Linked DNA regions of Homo sapiens. The protein of the gene in region 4 purifies or fractionates together with the protein of the main gene of each other region. This does not show direct contact. Each region holds a gene or a part of one and is shown on either strand. Other genes may lie near its edges. The genes, in order: EFNB2, S1PR3, RIC3, RIC1 and PACC1.

Region 1 (4,371 bases), on a different chromosome or scaffold from region 4:
AATAAGGCTACTGTAACACCCCAAATCCATAGACAGTAAAATCTGAACCTATTTACAGCATCTTCACTGAAACATGATGGTGCAAATTCCAAAGTCGGGTGACCAGGGACGATCATACAAGCAAGGCATTTACAGTAACTTTCCAAAGCTAAACCAACTTCAAACAAAGGGACAGTTGGTAGATTGTCATATTCTGCACCAGACACAAAACAGACGCACAGAACACTTTTCAATTGGTTGCAGGGAACTCTTTTATCAATTCATCTGATTTTTCACAGTTTAGCATAGAACCAAAACGTAGCCAACTGATGATACATACATTTGATTTCATTAAAATCAGACTATTTCCCATTTTTCCCCTTCTCGCCCCTCTCCCCCATCCTAAAAGTAACTTCTGATGGCTTACAAGAAACTCTTGCATGAATGCACAGAAAGGAGAGGTTGGGGTGATGGAAAGAATTACATATGTACTGTGGCTGGTTACCATGGCAACCCTCCACAGAAATATGATATAGATATATATAATATATATTGTAGATATATATTATACATATATGTACACATGTATACCACGCACCCACTCACACATACACACACGCACTTTGGACCAACATCATTTCCAGGTTCAGGAAATAGAGGATCATAATTTCTGTGACAACTCATTTTTGCAGGTACTCACTGGAGGTCTGAGAACCTTAAAATGCTGTCGCTACATTTTTTTTCCCTTCCAATTCAGAAAGCAAAGTGTTACCATAGTAACAGGACTATGTTAAAGATGTCTATTTTGCATAGCACATAAAAAGTAGGTTTCCTGTTTACTCTTCTTGTTTCCCAGAAGGGAGGGGGTGCGGGGGAGGACAGGAGGAGGGAGCCACAGCTAAATCGTCACCTGAAGCCCCCAGTGTGACCTGCTGGATTCTAGAGAACACTTCAGCCCATAAGGCAAGGGAAAACCCAACGCAGAAATAAACGCCGGAACATCTTGTCATTGTTAAATATATGATGCAGTCACATCGGCTTCCTGCTCTGTGGGGCTCGTACTTCCTAGTCTACGGTTCCGTGAGATGCCTTCGGAGGACTTGGTTATTTTTGCATTTGCTCTCATTATTGTTCTTTTTGGAATGATGTTGTTTTTCCCAGAAGTAGCTGTCCAATTTGTTTTTTTAAGCGCTGAGCATTGGGACCACTTAATTGCCACAAATGAATTTCACATCTTCTGGTGTGTACTGTGTGCAACCTTAAAATATATATTAGTAAAAATCTTTCATTTTATATCCCTTGTGTTCTATATACCTATTATAAATACGTCCTATCTTCCTTCTCCCCCTGGACATCATAATTTACTTCCGTCTTAAGGACTCTAAGAGGTCTGCCGTATGTGCTTCACCTTGACACAGAGCACCGGGCGCTGCAGCCTCCATCAGTACCGACCCTGCAGCCCTGGCACCCGGACAGCACCGCATAAACCAAAGTGTCGTAAGGCTCAATCGGGAGGGGAAGGAGGAACCTGGGGGGAGGGGGATCTGACCTACCTTTTATAGATAAGGATTCTTTAATAACAACGATGATGATGGAATTACAGCCTGTTTGACCTTTGGCTTTTCAACTTTTAGGTCAGATTTGGCTCTCTGCTATTCTCCTAAATGCTTTCCCTGTGTTTAATAAAATGTGATAAGTATAGCAGCTGAGTCTGCTTAAAAAATCATCCAAAGCAGACCGACTCTCCTACAGCTCGGAGCTGTGTATCTTATTGCCAGTACCACAACAGTCCTGCCCGAATATATCATCAGCGGCCTACTTTCTCCCTTCCCTCCAAGCCTGTTCCTTTCCCAACAATACCCGTCTTTGTTCCCCGGAATGAAGAGGGGCTTTTCTTCCTGCACATCGCTATTTGATAACAGCGAGTGCCTCCCCATGCACTGGAATCCACTGTGTGTGCTGTCGTGTCTCCTACTGGCCTCTTCGATCTCAGCAAAACCAAAGTGCTGTGCTACCTAATTGCTTTTTTCTTTTTTCCTTTCCAACTTTCTGTTTCAGAGGCAGCAGCAGTGAGCTGCAATTGCAGCCAGCCCTTTCCCCAGCCCCACTCCCTTCTATGAACTCCTAGCCTTCTTCGCAGACAGCCTAGCATCTGGCTAAAGGGCACCTTGTTAGCAAACACAATTTCTATGAACGGATTACCCATGGACTGAAGCTGTTGTTGCCAGCGGCTGGAGGAGGGGACTCCAGACATGAGTGTTCCATGAGTGATGCAGATGTGGAGTGGAGGTCTCAGGTGAGGTGCTGCAGAGCCCTGGGTAACAGAACGAGTGAGACAGTAAGGACTAAACTCTAGAGATCTTTGCACACCTTAACTAGCCCGAGGTCCGTGTGACAAGTCCGGTATGCACTGCGGGGGAAATGCACCCCAGGCAGAAGCCGGCCCTTCCAGGCGTGGCATCCTGGGGCACCTGCCAGGATGCTCACAGCCCTCTCGTCCACAAACCACTGTCTTCCCTTGGCTTCTGCAGAGGCCTGAGTGACCGCAGCACATGGCTTCGAGGAGGAGACGTGGGACGCGGCACAGCAGTCCGAATGGGCGTCTTCTGCACAGTCTTCCAGCTTCCAGGGAGCGTGTGTGTTCACCAAGGCCGAATGCTACAAGACTAGGTAAGCTGTCCAGCGCGACGGGCTCTTCCGAGGAGGAGTGTCCCTCTCCCCCGGTGCTGTGCTTCAGTCAATTCTCCAGCACGCGGGCTCTCAAACCCTCAAGGGAGGCATCGGGACATTAGGTGTCCTCTGGGAAAGCACAGGTACCACCAGGGTCCCTCTCAGACCTTGTAGTAAATGTTCGCCGGGCTCTGCGGGGGCATCTCCTGGACGATGTACACCGGGTGCCCGTAGTCCCCGCTGACCTTCTCGTAGTGAGGGCAGAAGACGCTGTCCGCAGTCCTTAGCGGGATGATAATGTCACTGGGCTCTGAGCCGTTGTTGTTGCCGCTGCGCTTGGGTGTGGCCAGTGTGCTGAGCGACAGCGTGGTCGTGTGCTGCGGCGAGTGCTTCCTGTGTCTCCTCCGGTACTTCAGCAAGAGGACCACCAGCGTGATGATGATGACGATGAAGATGATGCATCCTGAAGCAATCCCTGCAAATAAGGCCACTTCGGAACCGAGGATGTTGTTCCCCGAATGTCCGGCGCTGTTGCCGTCTGTGCTAGAACCTGCAGACGCGGAGACAGAAAAGGTCAGAGATAGTTACTGCTGTCCCAGTGCAGACGGACTGCTTTTATGACCCTTAAAAATGTGAAAAATAAGCCAGGCTTATTACTAACTAGAAGCTGGACTTTGCCTCGCCAATACCTCGTCTAAGAGCTCAACGCAAAAGGAAATGAGAGGTATCTCTAGGAGGGACTTCCCTACCCTCCCAAGCCACAGGGTTTCCTTTGTATCATTATCCAGCAAGAGCACAGACTGTCGGTGACAGCCAGCCCTTGATCTTGCTTCATCTTCTAACCCGTGTCAGCCAGCCTGGGGCAGCGGCAGGGAAGAAAAAGGGAAGTGGCCAATTCTCCAGGTCAGCGGTGAGCGTTTATGTGGTATTGCTCTTCCGCCTCCTTTGAGAAAGGGAGTTTCATGCAAACCTTCAAAGGGCCTGCCTTCTAAAGAAGAGCCCTGCCTCCTGGCAGAACAGAACAGCTCGGGAACGCGGAAGGAGTGAGGGGGCCTGGGAAAATGTTCAGCTCGTAACTCGTCTGTATTATTTGATTTACACTTAAAATATATTTGGAAGGCAGCAGAAACTCTCACACCGAACAGACTGCCAGCCCAAATGTTAAGCACTAAAAAACTGCCTGGCATCATTATATTATCCATTTATCAGTTTGTCACAAGAATTTGACACATCTTGTCATTGAAAGTTAGAAATAACAACTTCCCTCCTTGACTCTTGGAAAGGGATGGAATATTGCTGCAGACGATAAATTTGCACAACGACCAAGCAAGCACACAACAATCCTAATACAAAACTGCTGATGTCTGCTCAACAGCTACTCTATAAAACCTTCATTAGCATGGTAACAAATACAGAACTATTTGTTCCAAGACTGTTAAGAAAACGAAGGTCAACGACGGACAATTTTATCTGGTATTCTACACTTTTGTCAGGGACCTGTTTAATATTTTCTTTTACATGGAAAATGTGAAACAAAATAACGATAACCACCTGAAAAAATACTATTATGCAATATTTAAAAATGTTACCATTTAAAATTTAGAAGAGGATCAATTAAACCCTCTGTGGCTTAGATATAATTAGATGAGGGATTAGCACATTAATTACATATACATTAACATCAGCTTTAAGCTGGAGTTGACAACCAGCTTGATAAAATGT
Region 2 (4,960 bases), about 83 Mb from region 4:
GCACTTCCCTGGTTAGACTTACTGCTTCCCGGTGGCTTTTCCCCAAGTCCTTCTCCATCACAAATAAGGCTGGGACATTATGAGCTATCTGGGCATAGTCCAGGGAACCCCAGATATGGAGGCTGTGCCCCAGGAAACTCAGGCCCCGGCCCCGAGCATCTGCCTCCGTGAACACCATCCTGAGCTTCCAGACTTGTGTGTGGGAAGGCAAGTGCGTCTGAGCCAGGAGGTGTTTGACCGCTTTGCCTGTCCATGAGTCTTTTTAAACCTTCTCCATTCTGCTGCTGCTTCATGACAGCATAGGATAAATGATTCTCAAGATTTCCACAGGGATGAATCCACAGGGATGTGGAAATAGGCTCTGTGAGGTGGCTAAAGGCACATTCAAATAAGAGGCATCCTGCCCACGAAGGCTACCGGAGATCCTTCCTATCCCTTCCCAAAGCGGCAGTCTCACCTGGTGACTCGGCATGCGTGCCACCTTGCACCATGGACATAGCACACATGGCCTCATGGCAGCATCTGCCTTCTGAATGTACACAGGAGGAGACCGAGGCTGGGGGAGGGGGGGTGTCACTTGTCCTTAGTCACAGAGCTGGGAAGGGGCTGGGCCGGTGTCCGTGCCATCTGATTCCAGGATGTCACATTAGGGATGAGCTCTTTGGGAGGCTGCCACCTTGCCACTGGTTCTTTGCCTAGGTAGTGACAAGAGATTCTCTGGCATGTTTTAGAGACAAACTGCCTCATGCTCCCATGCCAGCAGAATGTTAGCATGTCATTCTGGGGGCACTGAAATATCTGGAAAATTTTGAAGCCAGGAAAATGGAGCGGCATCTGCAAGGCCGAAGAGCACCATCCACTGCTTGAGGAGCGGACCGTCACCTCGCTGTGTGAGCTGACCCCAGTCCGGCCTGTGAGCAGTGAAGATCCACTCACTGGGCACCAATCTGCACTGGACAATCTCGTCACTGATTTAACCCAACTGGCCTATTGTCTCTTACAGACACAGCTTCAATGCCTCAAAAATAGGATTCAAAAAAGGGAAGGAGACTTTATGCCCAGTAGCTATAACAGTAACATCAACTGAAACATGTTATTAACTGAAACTAGATACGATTCCACTCAGTCTATTCTTTTTCTTTTTTCTCAAACATTATACATTTCCAAAAGCTTAAGGAAAATCTTAAGGCAATTAATTTGGCAGAAAACATATGGCAGAGGAATAATAGGAAATGCCTCCAAAACTGATAAGAAAGGAATTACAAAGCCAAATATGAAGAAACAGAAAGTTTCATAGAACCCACAGCACAGCACCCTGGTTCCAGCTAAGGTAAACAGACTGCATAAGGCTGGCGGCCTGGCTCTGGTAACACTTGGGAAACAGTACAAAGTCCTGGCAGTTAAAGGGTTCTACAGCAGGGCAACCTCAGATTTTTCAAGATTGTGGCATGCTCAAATTCTCCTTTTTTTGGTAATAAAAATATACCTACAGTATATAATAAAAATATACATACAGCACAGGCATTGAGGAAGATGAAAGAGATACCATGAAATCAAGTTAATGTCATAATTTCCAGAAAGAGGAAACCAGTTCCTGAATTTTGAGAAATAAGATCCTTCGGCCACTATGTGAAGTTTCTTCTATAGGAAACTGTAGTCTCTACCCTTTGTATATGGTAGAAAATCAGAGACTCATGCATTTGAATAAAAATCACAATGATAAAGGGAGAAATGGCACTTTCAAAGATGAAAACTGGTTGAGAAATCATTCTCTCTAAATCTTAGGGGGAGGCTCTTAAGGGCTAGCTTCAGTTTGTATCTCTGGTGTTAGGTGATGGAAGTGATTTCAGAGGCCCAAAGTGAGTGCTTACTGGTTTGCTAATGAAAAAAGCCTGACGTGCGGTTCTTCTTCTATGGCAACAAAGTTATTCAACCTAGCATTAAGGTCTGCATCCATGAAATAATACTTTACAGATATGAACACTTCCACAACTCCTCAAGCGCACACACACACACACACACACATGCCCCGCACCATCACCACCTCCTCAACCAACACCAGCCCTGGGCATGGCCAGCTATCCTTGTTAGTCATGTATCTGCAGAGCATAATCCTTCCCTTGTACTTTCTAGGAATTATATTTTTCTTAACTATGCCTGCAAGATTTTCATCTATGAATAAAAAACATTGAAAAGATAAATTATGAATATGTGGTTATATACAAAGTCTGTGACTTCTAATGTCCAGATTTTAGAATGATGCCTAATTCTGGAGGTCTCAGAGGTCCAAGTGGGAGTGGGTACCATGAATGGGGGGGCCTCCATTTAAAAGTAACCTTCTAAAGAGCTCTCTGTTCCTGTAGCTCCCCTTTCCTTATTGGAAGGGTCAAAACGAAGTGTGTTCCCTTAAAAATCCAACAAGAAGTTCCTCTCTTATATCCAAATATAAAAACACCACAAAGAAATATACCATTGGGAGTGTCCAAAGCCAGAAAGTCAGAGGAAGAGAGAGAGAGAGAGAGAGAGAGAGACTGACTATTGGGAGACTCAAAAAGCCCAAAGCCCCTTCTCTAGCTGTTATCTCAGTTACGAACACAACGTACTGATTTTCCGTGGGAACCTCATTATTGCACTGTGGGGACTTCGTCTTCCAGCACCGATTCTGACGGCCCTAATTGCCTTGTTTGAGAAATGTTAGGAAAAAACTAATTTTCCGGCGAATATTGTTTAAAAGAATGATTTTCCCAGGCTAACGACCACAACCCTCTCCCACGTCCAGCATCCCCAGGCCCTGGCACTGTGGAAGCCTAACTTGTTAATTGTCCAAGGAAAACGACTGATGGAACTTCTCCACGAACAGCCTCTCCACTTTCATCCAGGTATTCAGCTCCAGCCCGTTGTAAACGCTCCGGGTGCGGTGGAAAAGGCCTCCTCCCTGTTCCTGCAGCGGCTCTGGGGGAGGGGTGCTGATGTGGAGCGCTCCGGCCGCCGTGGCGCGCCCAAGTCCCCGTCGCGCCCGGGATCGGTGGGGATTTTGTTGGAAAGGTGGGTCCTTCGGCCCCCAGCCCCCCACCCTGGTTCCGCGCCCCGCCCGGGCCCGCCTCTCACCTCCGTCGGCTGAGGGCGCTGGGGCCACCGGCATCCTAGCGGGTGGCGCGCGGCGGTGCCGGGGCGCCCGGTCCTGCGCTCGAATGCCAGATGGGCTGGGAGGCCCGGCAGTCTCAGCGCTCGCGACGTCGTTCCCGGGCCTGGGGTCCTGCTCGGTCGCGTCCTGCAGCCGCCTTCTGGTCCCTGAGTCCCTGTTGCCCGTCCCCGGAACCGGCTTCCTCGGCCTCTGCCCGAGCGAGTCAGAGACTAAACTTTTCCAGCGGCCCGCCGGGGCGGGACCCGCGCTCCGCCCCTCCCCTCGCCGCCCCCGACTCCCGCCCCTCTCCCCGCCCCCCTCTCCCCGTCCCCCGCCCGCGAACCCGGCACTCCTCCAGCTCCCCACCTCCCGCTCAAGCCGCCTGGTCTCCGTGCGCCCCGCCCGCCCCTAGCCTGGACCCCTTCTCCCCGACCCTACCAATCCCCTAGGGTCCGGCTCGCCCTTCGGCCCCTGTTCCCAGGCCGGCCTCCAGACCTTGTCCTCATCGGGCGAGCTCCAGGTGCAGAAACCGGGCGCCCAGAGACCCAGCGGGAACAGGCTTGGAACCAGGTCCGAGGTCTGGGCTTGGGCGGGCGCCTGTCGCCCTGACAGCGAGGGTTTGTTTGGGCCGATTCTTAATAGGAGGATTAATACTATCATTATCGTTGTCCAGATCCTGACCATTTCTTTTGTAACTGGCCGAGCACCGGCTTGGGCTTGCAGGTGGGCGCCTGGCGCCGGACAGCGTTTTTGTTTGGGCTTCTTCCTTTTCCGCGCGGGTCCCCTCCGGCGCCTGCCTGGTCCCTCTCCGCGCTCTACCCCCAGGCACGCAGAGACTTGGGCTCCAGGCGGGGGCAGCACTCTCCCCCAGCCTCTGCTGGTGCACCAGAGCCCACTCCGGCACAGAGCAGCGCCCCTCCTAGACCGGCAGCCAGCAGATCTCAGCCGACCCCCATGCGACCCCCTTCCTCACGCGGATTTGCCCCTTTTGTGTGGCAAAAATAATAATAATAATAATAAATCCATATGAAGGCTTCAAACAGAATTCCGAGAGAAGGAACTGCCAAATTTTCAATCAATGCCAAAGGCCATGATTGAGCGAACACAGAAACAACTGTAGAAGCTTGGGGAGAAAGGAGAAAATTAAAGAAAAAGGAGGAGGAGGAAAAGGAGAGAGGAGAGAAGCGGGAGGAAGAAGACGAAAAAGCAAGGAGAGGCCTGTTATCCGACCGTGCATTCCTGGGCCGGCAGGATTGGGCCGCAGGGGCCGCTGCAGAGAGTTGAGTTTGTGCAAAGGCCGCTCGTTACTTTCTGTCTTTTGCCCTCTTGCCTCCAGAGGATCAGCCCAGCGCATCCTTCTCTTGGAGCAGGGTGCATACGCTTATTTGGGGTGCAGTTTGAGCGGTGAAGGGCACCAAGAGTGGAAGTCGGCGGCACTCCTGTTCCCTGCAGAGAAACGCAAGCCCTCAGCAATTGAGCTGAAGGAGGCAAGTGACTCTGCCTGCTGAGGCTGCCAGCCCTAGAGGCTCTGGCCCCCGGGAGCTGGGGTACTTCCCAGCGTTTTCGCCTAAGCCACTTCGCCTGTGCTACTGTGGAGTCTTCCGGCACTGTAGCCTTCCAACTTGTTCAAAGTGCCTGGTGCACGGCTCTGAGAAGCCACTTCTGTCCCAAGTTTCATGTGGGCCTGAATGTGCTTCCCTTTGTTGGACTCCTACAGCATCAAGTCAAGAAAAGAAGGAAACATGCTCCTTTGGCATTGGTCACAACCAGGATAACAATACAGCATACTGTGGCCACTGTGTCTATATTACCAAAGTGGTCAGTAGGTTCATCACA
Region 3 (3,106 bases), on a different chromosome or scaffold from region 4:
CTCAAGTCCCAAGGTGACCTCTCTCTCCTCAGATTTCCTTCTTGGCCCTGTGCCCTGCACTTTCTTCACTGTGTTCAAGTGTCATAGCTATCAGGCCACTATCATGGATATCATGTATCCTTCCTGGTGCTCACACACCTGTCACCTTGTAAAACACGGACATTAGTGTGAACACAGGACAGCTTCGCTCTTTCTCTTCCTGCCTTTCCTCTATCAGAGAAGTTGATCCATTAAGTAATTATGTTTGGTCTATTGTAATTACAGATGGGACCACTCAGGGGCAAAGGTCTGACTCTTCCTGGTAGGTGTAACAGATAGTTCACCTGTGAACGAACATCAGCTTACAGATGATGAGGACTTAAGGTTGCAAGAATGAAGATTTCAGACTCCAAGATCCCTTATTCTTTGGGCCTTGAGCAGGTTAGTAGTCCCCTGGTGAGAAGAGAACATTTTGTTTGTGGGGCTAATGGGCCCAGAGGAGGGTAAGACTCTGCTGTCTAAGCTGAAGCCTCTTCCTCGCAGCGAGGGTCTTCCTAGGAACATTGATGCTGCCTCAGACATCCTCTTTTCTCCAGAGTAGGGAAGACTCCCACTGATCTGAGAATGAGCCCAGAGGCTTGTTTGGGGACTGTTTTACTCTGATACTACCTGGATATCTAGCTTCCTTTACCCCTGTTCTGCTTAACAGAACTGCCAAGCCCAGAAGTACCTTTGCACTCCTGGTTTTCAGTGGACAGAGGAAGCTTTAGATAGAGACTTTAGACCCTGCCCTGCAGAGTCAAGACTTGAGGCCATTGAAGCTGCAGGAAGCCCTGCCCAGGGATGGTCCTGCCATGAGGAGGCTGCAACCCTATAAGAGGGCTCAAGATTGTGAATTCTGCTCCTGCCATGAGGAGCTCAGAAGGCCAGGAAGCCAGCAATAGGGGAGAGAATCTGTGTGCTTATGGACAGTCCTTACCTAAAGCTGTTTCTGAATGTTGCACCCTTTGAGAAATTTCTTCTCAGAACCATAAATTGAAACAAATGAGGACTGATCTTGTATACAAAGTGCCAACTCAAGAGGGAAGTTGGAGTATGTCTGTTGCAGAGAACCAATATAGCAGTGCCCAGGGGTAGAGACCATGTGTTCCATACTCGGATATTTGGGTCTTTTTGAGAGAGCTGGGGAAAGTAGCAGCAACTAGATTAAGACTGGGAGGATTTTGACCAAACTAAAGGCCTTTTCTCCTTACTGCATCTGACGTGTGTCTTCTTGAGACAAGATAGCACCCATGAATTACATCATGAGGTATGTGTGAATTCAGTTTACATGTAAGACCTGAGAGTTCGAAGAGGGCACATTCCCAAAGACATTCCCAGTCATGAAATGTAGAAGACTGGAAAATTAAGACATTATGTAAAGGTAGATATGGCTTTTAGAGTTACATTATGCTTGGCATGAATAAGGTGCCAGGAAAACAGTTTAAAATTATACATCAGCATACAGACTGCTGTTAGAAGGTATGGGATCATATTAAGATAATCTGTCAGCTACTACTAGGCATTTATTGTTAATTGAGTTACAGAAAGTCATTCAAGACTGAGTTTATAGAAAGCATATTGCATCTATCTCTGTGTAGAACATTTGATTCACATTGTGAAGAATGCAGTTTAAAATATACTGAATGCAATCTAGATGTATTGTACACGAAAGGTGAAAAATAACAGGTGCTCTTTACTGTTTAGATAAATTGTTTTCTGTGTTATTTCCCTTCGTTCACTGTGAGGGGTTGATTCATGAGGAGAGCCCTGGGTTCCTGGCTCAGGTTTACTTTTGGCCTTAGGATAGGATTCCCTTATTAGAGATAAATACTGCTGTTCTCTTCTAGCTCATTCATTCATTTAGCAGTCAATTGCTCAGTGCCAGGTGCTAGGAACAGAGGCTCAATCTCTACCCTCAGAAAACTCAGTGTGACGAGAGAGAGCCTGACAGATAAAATGAACTATGACCCTGTAAGAGGGCTCAGGATCGTGAATCCTGCAGGCAGAGAAACATGAGCCATAATCTGTCCCTGCATTTTCTAGCTGTGGAATCTTGGGTCAGCTCCTTAACTGGTCTGAGCTTTGGCTTCAGGGTAGTAAAGGGAGGGGTATTAAAGGTCCTGGTTAAATGAAATCATCAGTGTGTGTAAAACAGCATTGGTTCTAGCTCATACATGATAACCACTCATTAAGTGGTAATTATGTTTTTATTATAAGGGCTATGCTGTAATTCAGACATGGGCCCAAAACTACAGGAAAGATAAATTGTTTTTGCTAAAGTATTGCCAAGAAACTTCACAGTTTCTTGGGAGGTGGGCCTTGAGGCATGCAAAGAACTTCTTCAGGTAGGCAAAGAAGAGAGGACACTCTTGGCAGAAAGAGTTGTTGAAAAAAGCAGTAGGGTGTGAAAATACATGGATGTTCAAGTATTTTGGTGAGGCTGTTATGTAAAGTGTTGTTGGTCTTTGGGGAAAATTGGCTTATGGAAATTCCTGCCAGAAGTACTAAGCCCTTATGGTGGTTCTTCCTGCCCTAGCTCTTGGTTGGTTTATATATAAGGAATATATTTGTGTATTTATATATCAGACATTTGGATGTACCTTTCAGTTATTTAGGATTTAGAAAATTCTTTTTGGATTTTCCAGAATTATTTTATCCTTCGGGGATGACAGTTATATGTGTATATACAACCCAGGATGACAAAATCATGGGTCCGGTTTTTGTTGCCAGGGCTGCTGTCTCTTTTCTTGCGGTCTTCATTTCTCACGAGGGTGCTGGGAACTTGATCAGTCCCCTGGCCTTTTGGCACTGTGGCAGAGTACACAAGTCATACCTTTATGGACAGTTAGCTCACAAAACAACTGCATAATCTGGGATCACTCTTGGTAAATCAGGTGGGTGGTGCAGCCAGGAGATCCCCTTTCCTGGTCACAACAGGAGCACAAAGAAACCATTATCTCCATGACTAGCTCCAGAAGCTGGGCCCAGGGAGTCGTGATGAGGAGTGGAGGTGTATTTGGCCTGTAGAATCAACGGCCTTTGAGAACCATACAATGCACCTTATATGGCTTGGGTGATCAAATAA
Region 4 (3,346 bases):
ATATATCCAGAAATGGGACTGCTGGGTCATAATTCTACTTGCATTTTTTTTGAGGAATCGCCATGTTTCCCATAGCAACTGCACCATTTTAAATTATCAGCAGTGGACAAGGGTTCTATTTTCTCCACATCTCACCAACACTCACTTTCAGTTTTTTGATAGTAGTCATCCTAATGGGTGTGAGATGGTGCCATCACTTTAGAAAACTTTTTTCAAGAGATAATTTCAAATATATTAAAAAGTACAGTTAATAATATAGTGGGTTCTCCTCCCTCCCCCATGTGGCCGTCACTCAGCTTACATCACTAATGGCCACATATGTTTGTTGTACCTCCCCACTCTTGTATTAACTGAAGAAAATCCATGACATATTATCTATAAATATTTCAGTTTTTTTCCTACAAGGACTCTTTAAGAATTATGACCAAAATACCATTATCATCCCTATAAAAATTTGATAATTCCTTGGTACCATCAAATATCCATTAAGTATTCAGATTTCTAATTGTTTCATAGACATCATAATTTTGTATAGGTTAAGATTTAAATAAGGTTCACATATTGTGATTGTGTTCTTAATTCTCTTTTTAAGTGGATGTTCCCCCACCCTCTCCTTTTCCCTTCCTTGCAGTTTATTCATGGAAGAAATTTGGTTTTGTGGATTTTCTCACAATAATGATTTTGCTTATTACATCTCCATGGTTTAGTTTAACAGTTTCCTCTATTTCCTGTAGTAGCTGAATGTAAAGACTTGGTCAAACTCTAGCTAGATTTTATTGAGGGAGTTGGGGAAGACTGCTTCATAGGTGGTGGTAGTATATTTTTCCATCTAAAGGTACATAATGTCGGTTATCTAATTCTTTCTTTAAATGTTTTCTATGTTCACATGGTAATTTTAGCCATGGATTTCATGTTTTAGTTTCAAGATCCTGAGAAATCAACATCTGAGGAACAGCTAATATTTAAAATTAAAGGAAAATATATTTTCTCCACGAAGTTGGTTGTAACTTTTGGCAATTCTTCATCAGGTGATGAATGCAGTATTGGTTCAGCCACAGACTTGACTGAAAGTAGCTCCATGGTGGATGGCGACTGGACAATGGTGGATGAAAATTTCTCTACACTCAGTTTAACTCAGTCAGAGCTGGAGCACATTTCCATGGAGTTGGCCAGTAAAGGGCCTCATAAATCCCAGGTCCAGCTTCGGTGAGTTTCTTGGCTATTTGAAATCACAGAATGCCTACTCAGAGTATTTGGGCAAATAGGTATGGGGCTACTCTCCTAATAATCATTGCACTTCTGTACATCTTATAGATCTTTCTTAGCATAAATCATTTTGTTTCTGCTTATATTTAGGTATTTGCTACACATTTTCATGGAGGCAGGGTGCCTAGACTGGTGCATCGTTATAGGCCTGATTCTTAGAGAATCCTCAATAATCAATCAGATTTTGGTTATTACACAGTCTTCAGAGGTAGATGGAGAGATGTTACAGAACATAAAGACAGGGCTCCATGCAGTGGACCGATGGGCCTCTACAGACTGGTAAGTGCTGCTTTCCTTAGGCTTGGTGTCCTTCCATGTCTTTTGGTGAATCCTGTCCTTTCACATTAAGGCCTAGTTATGGTTCATGTGTTACATTTTATTTATTTATTATATATTATTTATTATATGTTCATTTTTAAGCTACTTTCTTTAGTAATCATTCTATACCCAGCTATTTAAATGGATAATTCCATCGAGTAAGGTTACACTGTTGGTCAGTGTATAATTTATAGTGTGAATGTATATCACTGACTTAAGATTGATGCAGTGCAAATGAGCTTAGAATTAGACTGGAACTTCAGATTTGCATCCCTGTGAAATTGAAAGCAATGGTCTACAAATATCTACTTGAAAAGATTCAAACTTAAGGTCCATGTGAATTTAACATTCCATGGCAGTTACAAGCAAATCCAAATTAGAGTTGTGGTTGCAGTTAAGAGCCTTGGACTCTAGCCCTGTCTTTATTACCAGTTAATGTGTGTATTTGGAGCTAGTTACTTCCCTTACTTGGATCTGGTTTTCCTTAATTGGCAAATGCATTTAGGTTAAATGTTGTCTGAAGGTCCTTTTTCAAGTCTAAGCTCCTGTTGGCCTTTCAATTGTAAAATATAATTTTTAGTTGTAATACTGGTTCTAAAACATCAGCCTTTGCCCCTAATGCTTAGAAACTTAAGCCTCAGGCTTATGCAATGTGCAGCCCCCTCTGCTGGGCAGGACAGCCAAGAAGCCTTTCCTCCCTACCTTCTTTGCCTCCTCTCTCCCCTCCTAATCTATCGTCGTCTTTACCATATCAATGTTCAGTAGAAGTTCACCCGTAATGTTCTACCAAACCTTTTGAATTATGGCAGATGAGCTAATGTTTTTTTTCTCTACATAGTCCTGGATATAAGCCATTTTTAAACATCATTAAGCCACAACTGCAGAAGCTCAGTGAGATAACAGAAGAGCAGGTCCAGCCAGATGCCTTCCAACCAATAACTATGGGTAAGACTCCAGAACAGACTAGCCCCCGGGCAGAGGAGAGCAGGGGCTCCTCCAGCCATGGAAGCATCCCCCAGGGTGAAGTTGGAAGCAGCAATATGGTCAGCCGGAAAGAGGAGGACACAGCCCAAGCAGAGGAGGAAGAACCTTTTCAGGATGGGACTTACGACTGTTCTGTGTCCTAACAGTGAGGTTCCATCACAAAGGGGCAGTATTAATTAGCAGCAGCGTGCAGCTCAGTACGTTGTAACATAGTTGGATGATTTAACAGGAGAACTCAGTTCAGAGACTCTTCGGTAAGTATTAGTAGATTTTAACTAATTCTTTCTTGTCTAAGAAATCTTTTTGACTCCATAAAAATGTGATATAAAGCATCTTTCATAAAAAAATTTTAAGCTGCAGTGAAAAGTAAATATTGTACAGATGTACATGAGAATATTTTGGTTTTACTCAAAGGTTGGTAGCTCTTAAACCACAGGAATTGTTTTGCCCCAGGTGAGCTTACTTTTTCACTACTTACATCTTCTCACATTTCCCGGTTCTGCATTATGTCCAGATTGCTTTTTAAAAAATAAATGCTAAGGTGCTTGCTATAGTCTGTCAGGTACTTGAGCTACCTGTTTGCTCCCTTGGATACAGCTGGACTCTTTAATCAGTCCTCCTGAATAGATTGCTACCCTGGGGCACAATATGTGCCAGTGTGATGGAAACATTCTCCTTGGCTTTACTAGCCAGTCAAATCCCAGTCCAGAATTGATGGAAGCTATTTACCTGTGAGTTAATGTGCTTGTTTTAGCAAGCTTGATTCCCATTAGACCAA
Region 5 (4,371 bases), on a different chromosome or scaffold from region 4:
TGAGTAGCTGGGATTACAGGCATGCGCCACCACGCCCAGCTAATTTTGTATTTTTAGTAGAGACAGGGGTTTCACCATGTTGGTCAGGCTGGTCTCGAACTCCCGACCTCAGGTGATCCTCCTGCCTCGGCCTCCCAAAGTGCTGGGATTACAGGCTTGAGCCACTGCGCCTGGCCAAGAAAATGTCTTTCTAAATTAAAATGCTTCCATGGAAGGATGGCGTGACCAAGCTACTCTGTCACTGTTGGAAGCCAGATGCCAAGCAAAAAGCTTTCGGGGCTTAGGATGAGTGAAGCATCAGCTGTGGAAGAAAAGAAAATCAAGCAGAGGGAATGGTAAGTGTGAGGGAATCCCGGGTTGAGAAGGGCACTCCAGAAGAACAGAAAGTCGATGAGTAGAGGTGGAGCTAGAGCTGGGAGAACTGGGGAAGTGGAGCAGTGAGGGATAAGGCCAGAGAGGTAGGTTGGGGCCAGCTCACTTGTTGGATTGTAACTGCCTATCCCTCTAGAGAGTAAACTCCTTTTTTCTGTTCTTTTTGTTTGTTTTTTGCTTTTTCTTTTAACATTTTTATCGTTTTTTATCTTTTATCTTTTTTCTTTTGAGAGTAAACTCCTTAAAGACAATGAATAAGTCTCCTTCAGCTTGGTGTCCTCTACCTGGCAGAGAAGCTGTGTAGTAAATGTTTACAGGTGCCCTTTGTTATGATTTGTGGGGTGAGGTGGAAAGGTTGGGCGTGCAGGTGACTTCACCTCCTTGGTGAGGCAGGCAAGGGCCTGGAGGTTGCTGGCCATCTCTGTCTGTACCTTGTCCCTGTGCCCTGGGTCACATGGTGTTTTGTTGTTGTCAGGCCTGGACAGCGAGTCCGCCTCCAGCAGCATCCGCTTCAGCAAGGCCTGCCTGAAGAACGTCTTCTCGGTCCTACTCATCTTCATCTACCTGCTGCTCATGGCTGTGGCCGTCTTCCTGGTCTACCGGACCATCACAGACTTTCGTGAGAAACTCAAGCACCCTGTCATGTCTGTGTCTTACAAGGAAGTGGATCGCTATGATGCCCCAGGTAGAGCCTGCCCCTGGGCCAGGCATCAGGGCCCCAGATCTAGGGTGTCAGCTGGCAGATACTCCCTGAGCTGCCGTTGTATTTGTGGTACTACGGGCAGGGCAGAGGAGTCCAACCAAGCATAGTCTAGGTATAGAGTCTATGCCCAAGGAGCTGCTGTTGGGAGTGTGTTACGTGCTGAGGACAGAAATGGACAGAGCCTGGAGCAGCTACTGCAGGCTACTAGAGGGGTCAGGGAAAGCTTGGCAGAGAGGTAGGATTTGAGATGGGCCTCGAAAAGCACATAGATGGGAAGAGAGTGTCTTTGGGATGGGGATCAGCAGAGCGAAGGGGTGTCTAGGGAGGCAGAGGGCTTCTCTGGAGAGGATGAGACTAACTTGGCTGGGGCCAGAGGGCAGGGATGAGGAGAAGCAGGAGTCAAGGCTGGACTGTGGGGTGGGGAGGATGGCAGGGGAGGCGAGGCCATTCAACCCTGCCTGGAGAGGGACTCCCAGGCCACACTGGGTATACCTGTCTCACTGGGGTGTCTGGTCCCTGAGTGGGGAGTCCACTCTGCTATAGAGCAAGCTATCTGCTCTGGGCTGCAGGGCTGGCACTGGATGTTCTAGGGGCTGTAGAGTAAATGAGGAGGCATGAGCTGTGTGACTTGGGCCCTGTCCACCCAGTGTGTGCCACCTGTTCTGCCCACAGATGCCCCTGAGTAACCTGTGGGAGGGCCTGCTCACATGGCAGAGCCAGAGTCCGGGTGCCCTCTCTCTGGGGCTTCCTGCCAGCCTCCAGCAGAGTCAGGTGTGCTGGTCATGGCTCCTCTGCCCATCTCTTCCTGTCTTGTGTTTGTCCCTCTTCTCTGTGTGTCTGCTTGAGTCTTCTTTATCTGTACGTTTTACTTTCTCTGTCTGGTGTCTTAGTGTCTCTGAAGTCTGTCTGTCTCTGATGCCATGTGCTGCTGTCTTAGCATTGCTGCCCTTGAGGCTGGACAGCTACTGTCAGTAGAGGTGCCTGGGCTGGGAAGAGGGAGGGACTCTTGGGATGTGACTTGCACACTTGGGGCTCCCAGTCTAAGAGACAAAATGAGTTCTGAGGAGTTCCACAGTTTAGAGCCTCCCAGTGATTCTGCAGGTGGGTGTTGGCCCAGAGGGGTGGCACAGGGGCTGAGTCAAGAGACACTCCTTCGGAGGGTGTGGAGCGGGGCTCTGAGGTGGAGTGGGTTTTGATGTGGGCATCAGGGCGGCTGGATCCCAGGTTGGCCAGGGGCTTACTGAGGAGGGGCTTGTGCCCTCTGCTACAGCGGGGCTTTCTGAGGCCAGGGGATGTGGCTCCTCACCCTCTGAAACCCTTTTCTTCTCCCTTCCCTGCAGTCCTCCAGGGAGTCCAGAACGTAGGTTGTTGGTAGGTGTGAGATGATTTCAGGGATGTGGTCAGGAGTGTGATTTCTGACACTTGCTTTTCCTGTTTGTGCCCCCAGGTATTGCCTTGTACCCCGGTCAGGCCCAGTTGCTCAGCTGTAAGCACCATTACGAGGTCATTCCTCCTCTGACAAGCCCTGGCCAGCCGGGTGACATGAATTGCACCACCCAGAGGATCAACTACACGGACCCCTTCTCCAATCAGACTGTGGTAATTCCTGTCTGCCTGAGCTGGGTCTGGGCAGCTGCTCTGTTAGCCCCGCAACCCAAGGCCCCAAGTTTCCTTTTTCCTAGGAGTCCTTCTTCCACTCACTCAGTGTGGGGCCTTAGTCCCCAAGGAGACATGCGGCTGTGCCATGTGGACACTTGGCTGTGGTTGGCTCACTTGCATTCAGGGAGGACAGTGAGGCCTCCAGCCTTTGCTGAGTAATGCTCAGGGATTCCTGACAGTGCGGTGAGACCCTGTCCCCAATGGAAGAATGGCAGGGCTAAAGGGTGGGGCTGGTGCGATATAGCGAAGTGGGTCCCATACCTGACCACTTGACAGAATTGCCAGGATACTTTTTGAAAATATGAATTTCTAGGTTCCATGTGAAGCCAACTGAATTATAATTCCTTAGGTGGGGCCTGAGAATCCATAGTTTGAAATTAATACGCCAGCGTAAAGGAGCGTCGGTCTGGGGACAAGGACTCCTGGGCCCTGGGCTGGCCATGCTGTCGTGCACAACACAGCACGGCTGGGAAGGATGACTGAGGGATGGGGTTAGGAGCGCCCTGGAGGAGTGGCACTGCACAGGGTTTCAAAGACAGGGTAGGCGTTTTGTATTGATTTACATCTCATCTTTTTCATTTCATATTCTTGCTTCAGAAAGCATTGAAAGGGGCTACAATAGTTTTCCAGATGAAATTGGGAAGGAAAGGTTTTCTAGGCAGAGGAAATTGCACCATGACCTAAAGGGAAGAGACGACATGTTGTACTTGTGCCTCTGGGCACAATTGCAGTTGGTGGGGAAATGTTTCATAGGGTCAGGAGCCCTGGAAGACTGATGGGTGATGAAGCTGTGGACAGAGTAATGGCCAGATGAGAAAAGAACATGCATCGTGCTGTAGAGCCACACTTGCTCCCTTGGGTAACAGGGAACTGTTAGTGGGTTTTAAGATGAAAGAATAACACTAATTTTTTTTTTGTTAGTATGTGAACGCTAGGCCCCCTCCTAAAATCCTGCTAAAATGATTCTCTAAGGAATGAGATAGAACAGACTAGAACATCAATAATAGCTTTGCACGTGAAGAAAGGATATCACCAGTGGACCAGACATTTTGAGGAACTGGTATAAAGCATAAAAAACAGCTTGGGCCAGATTGGTGGAGCAAACAAATTAGAGCAAATCCCTAACCCAAAACAGATGAAGGAGAGACCTGTTGTAGAGGTACAAGCTTTCCTTCCAAACCCCCAGCTTGGAATCAGCACCGTTAGAGAGCAGGGTAGTCATTACTGGACTGCCTGTTGGCTGGGCCAGACACACCCTATACCCTCCCCAGGTATGCAGAGCCGCTGGGGATGGTTGCCTCTGGGTAAAAGACCCTGGAACCATTCTCTACAGAAGCGAAGGGAAGATGATTCTTTGTGTAGGCATAGGAAACAGAGCAGACTTCTACAATGGAAAAGGAGAGAGAACTAAAGGAAAGGACTCTTCCCAGAGTAAAACACACTGGAAAACTCAGTGTGCTTCCACAGAGCATACTTAGCTTTCCCATGCAAGGGAGAGGCCTATTAGAGAAACAGAAATTTACTACTTTGGAAGAAACCAAAACCCAGACCTATACTAGTCAACCTAATCCTTCATTCATAAATAAGAATGGAGAATTAATGGTCACCAGACATTTGCATGAAACCAATGACAGAAA

What was found.
Region 1: the proteins of RIC1 (region 4) and EFNB2 purify together in Homo sapiens (co-immunoprecipitation; one large-scale study listed by IntAct). This does not show direct contact.
Region 2: the proteins of RIC1 (region 4) and S1PR3 purify together in Homo sapiens (co-immunoprecipitation; one large-scale study listed by IntAct). This does not show direct contact.
Region 3: the proteins of RIC1 (region 4) and RIC3 purify together in Homo sapiens (co-immunoprecipitation; one large-scale study listed by IntAct). This does not show direct contact.
Region 5: the proteins of RIC1 (region 4) and PACC1 purify together in Homo sapiens (co-immunoprecipitation; one large-scale study listed by IntAct). This does not show direct contact.

The regions. Positions count from the first base shown.
Region 1 is NC_000013.11:106,490,230-106,494,600, forward strand, and holds part of EFNB2 (ephrin-B2 isoform 1 precursor), read right to left. Parts: intron 3,200-4,371; coding exon 2,811-3,199; 3' UTR 1-2,810. UniProt on the Homo sapiens protein: Cell surface transmembrane ligand for Eph receptors, a family of receptor tyrosine kinases which are crucial for migration, repulsion and adhesion during neuronal, vascular and epithelial development.
Region 2 is NC_000009.12:88,989,844-88,994,803, reverse strand, and holds the start of S1PR3 (sphingosine 1-phosphate receptor 3), read right to left. Parts: upstream 3,337-4,960; 5' UTR 3,109-3,336; intron 2,953-3,108; exon of another isoform or gene 1-2,952. UniProt on the Homo sapiens protein: Receptor for the lysosphingolipid sphingosine 1-phosphate (S1P). S1P is a bioactive lysophospholipid that elicits diverse physiological effect on most types of cells and tissues.
Region 3 is NC_000011.10:8,107,566-8,110,671, reverse strand, and holds part of RIC3 (protein RIC-3 isoform a precursor), read left to right. Parts: 3' UTR 1-3,106. UniProt on the Homo sapiens protein: Molecular chaperone which facilitates proper subunit assembly and surface trafficking of alpha-7 (CHRNA7) and alpha-8 (CHRNA8) nicotinic acetylcholine receptors.
Region 4 is NC_000009.12:5,771,536-5,774,881, forward strand, and holds part of RIC1 (guanine nucleotide exchange factor subunit RIC1), read left to right. Parts: intron 1-1,028; coding exon 1,029-1,206; intron 1,207-1,356; coding exon 1,357-1,545; intron 1,546-2,422; coding exon 2,423-2,711; 3' UTR 2,712-3,346. UniProt on the Homo sapiens protein: The RIC1-RGP1 complex acts as a guanine nucleotide exchange factor (GEF), which activates RAB6A by exchanging bound GDP for free GTP, and may thereby be required for efficient fusion of endosome-derived vesicles with the Golgi compartment.
Region 5 is NC_000001.11:212,383,577-212,387,947, reverse strand, and holds part of PACC1 (proton-activated chloride channel), read left to right. Parts: intron 1-847; coding exon 848-1,057; intron 1,058-2,522; coding exon 2,523-2,674; intron 2,675-4,371. UniProt on the Homo sapiens protein: Chloride channel gated by pH that facilitates the entry of chloride ions into cells upon exposure to extracellular acidic pH. Involved in acidosis-induced cell death by mediating chloride influx and subsequent cell swelling.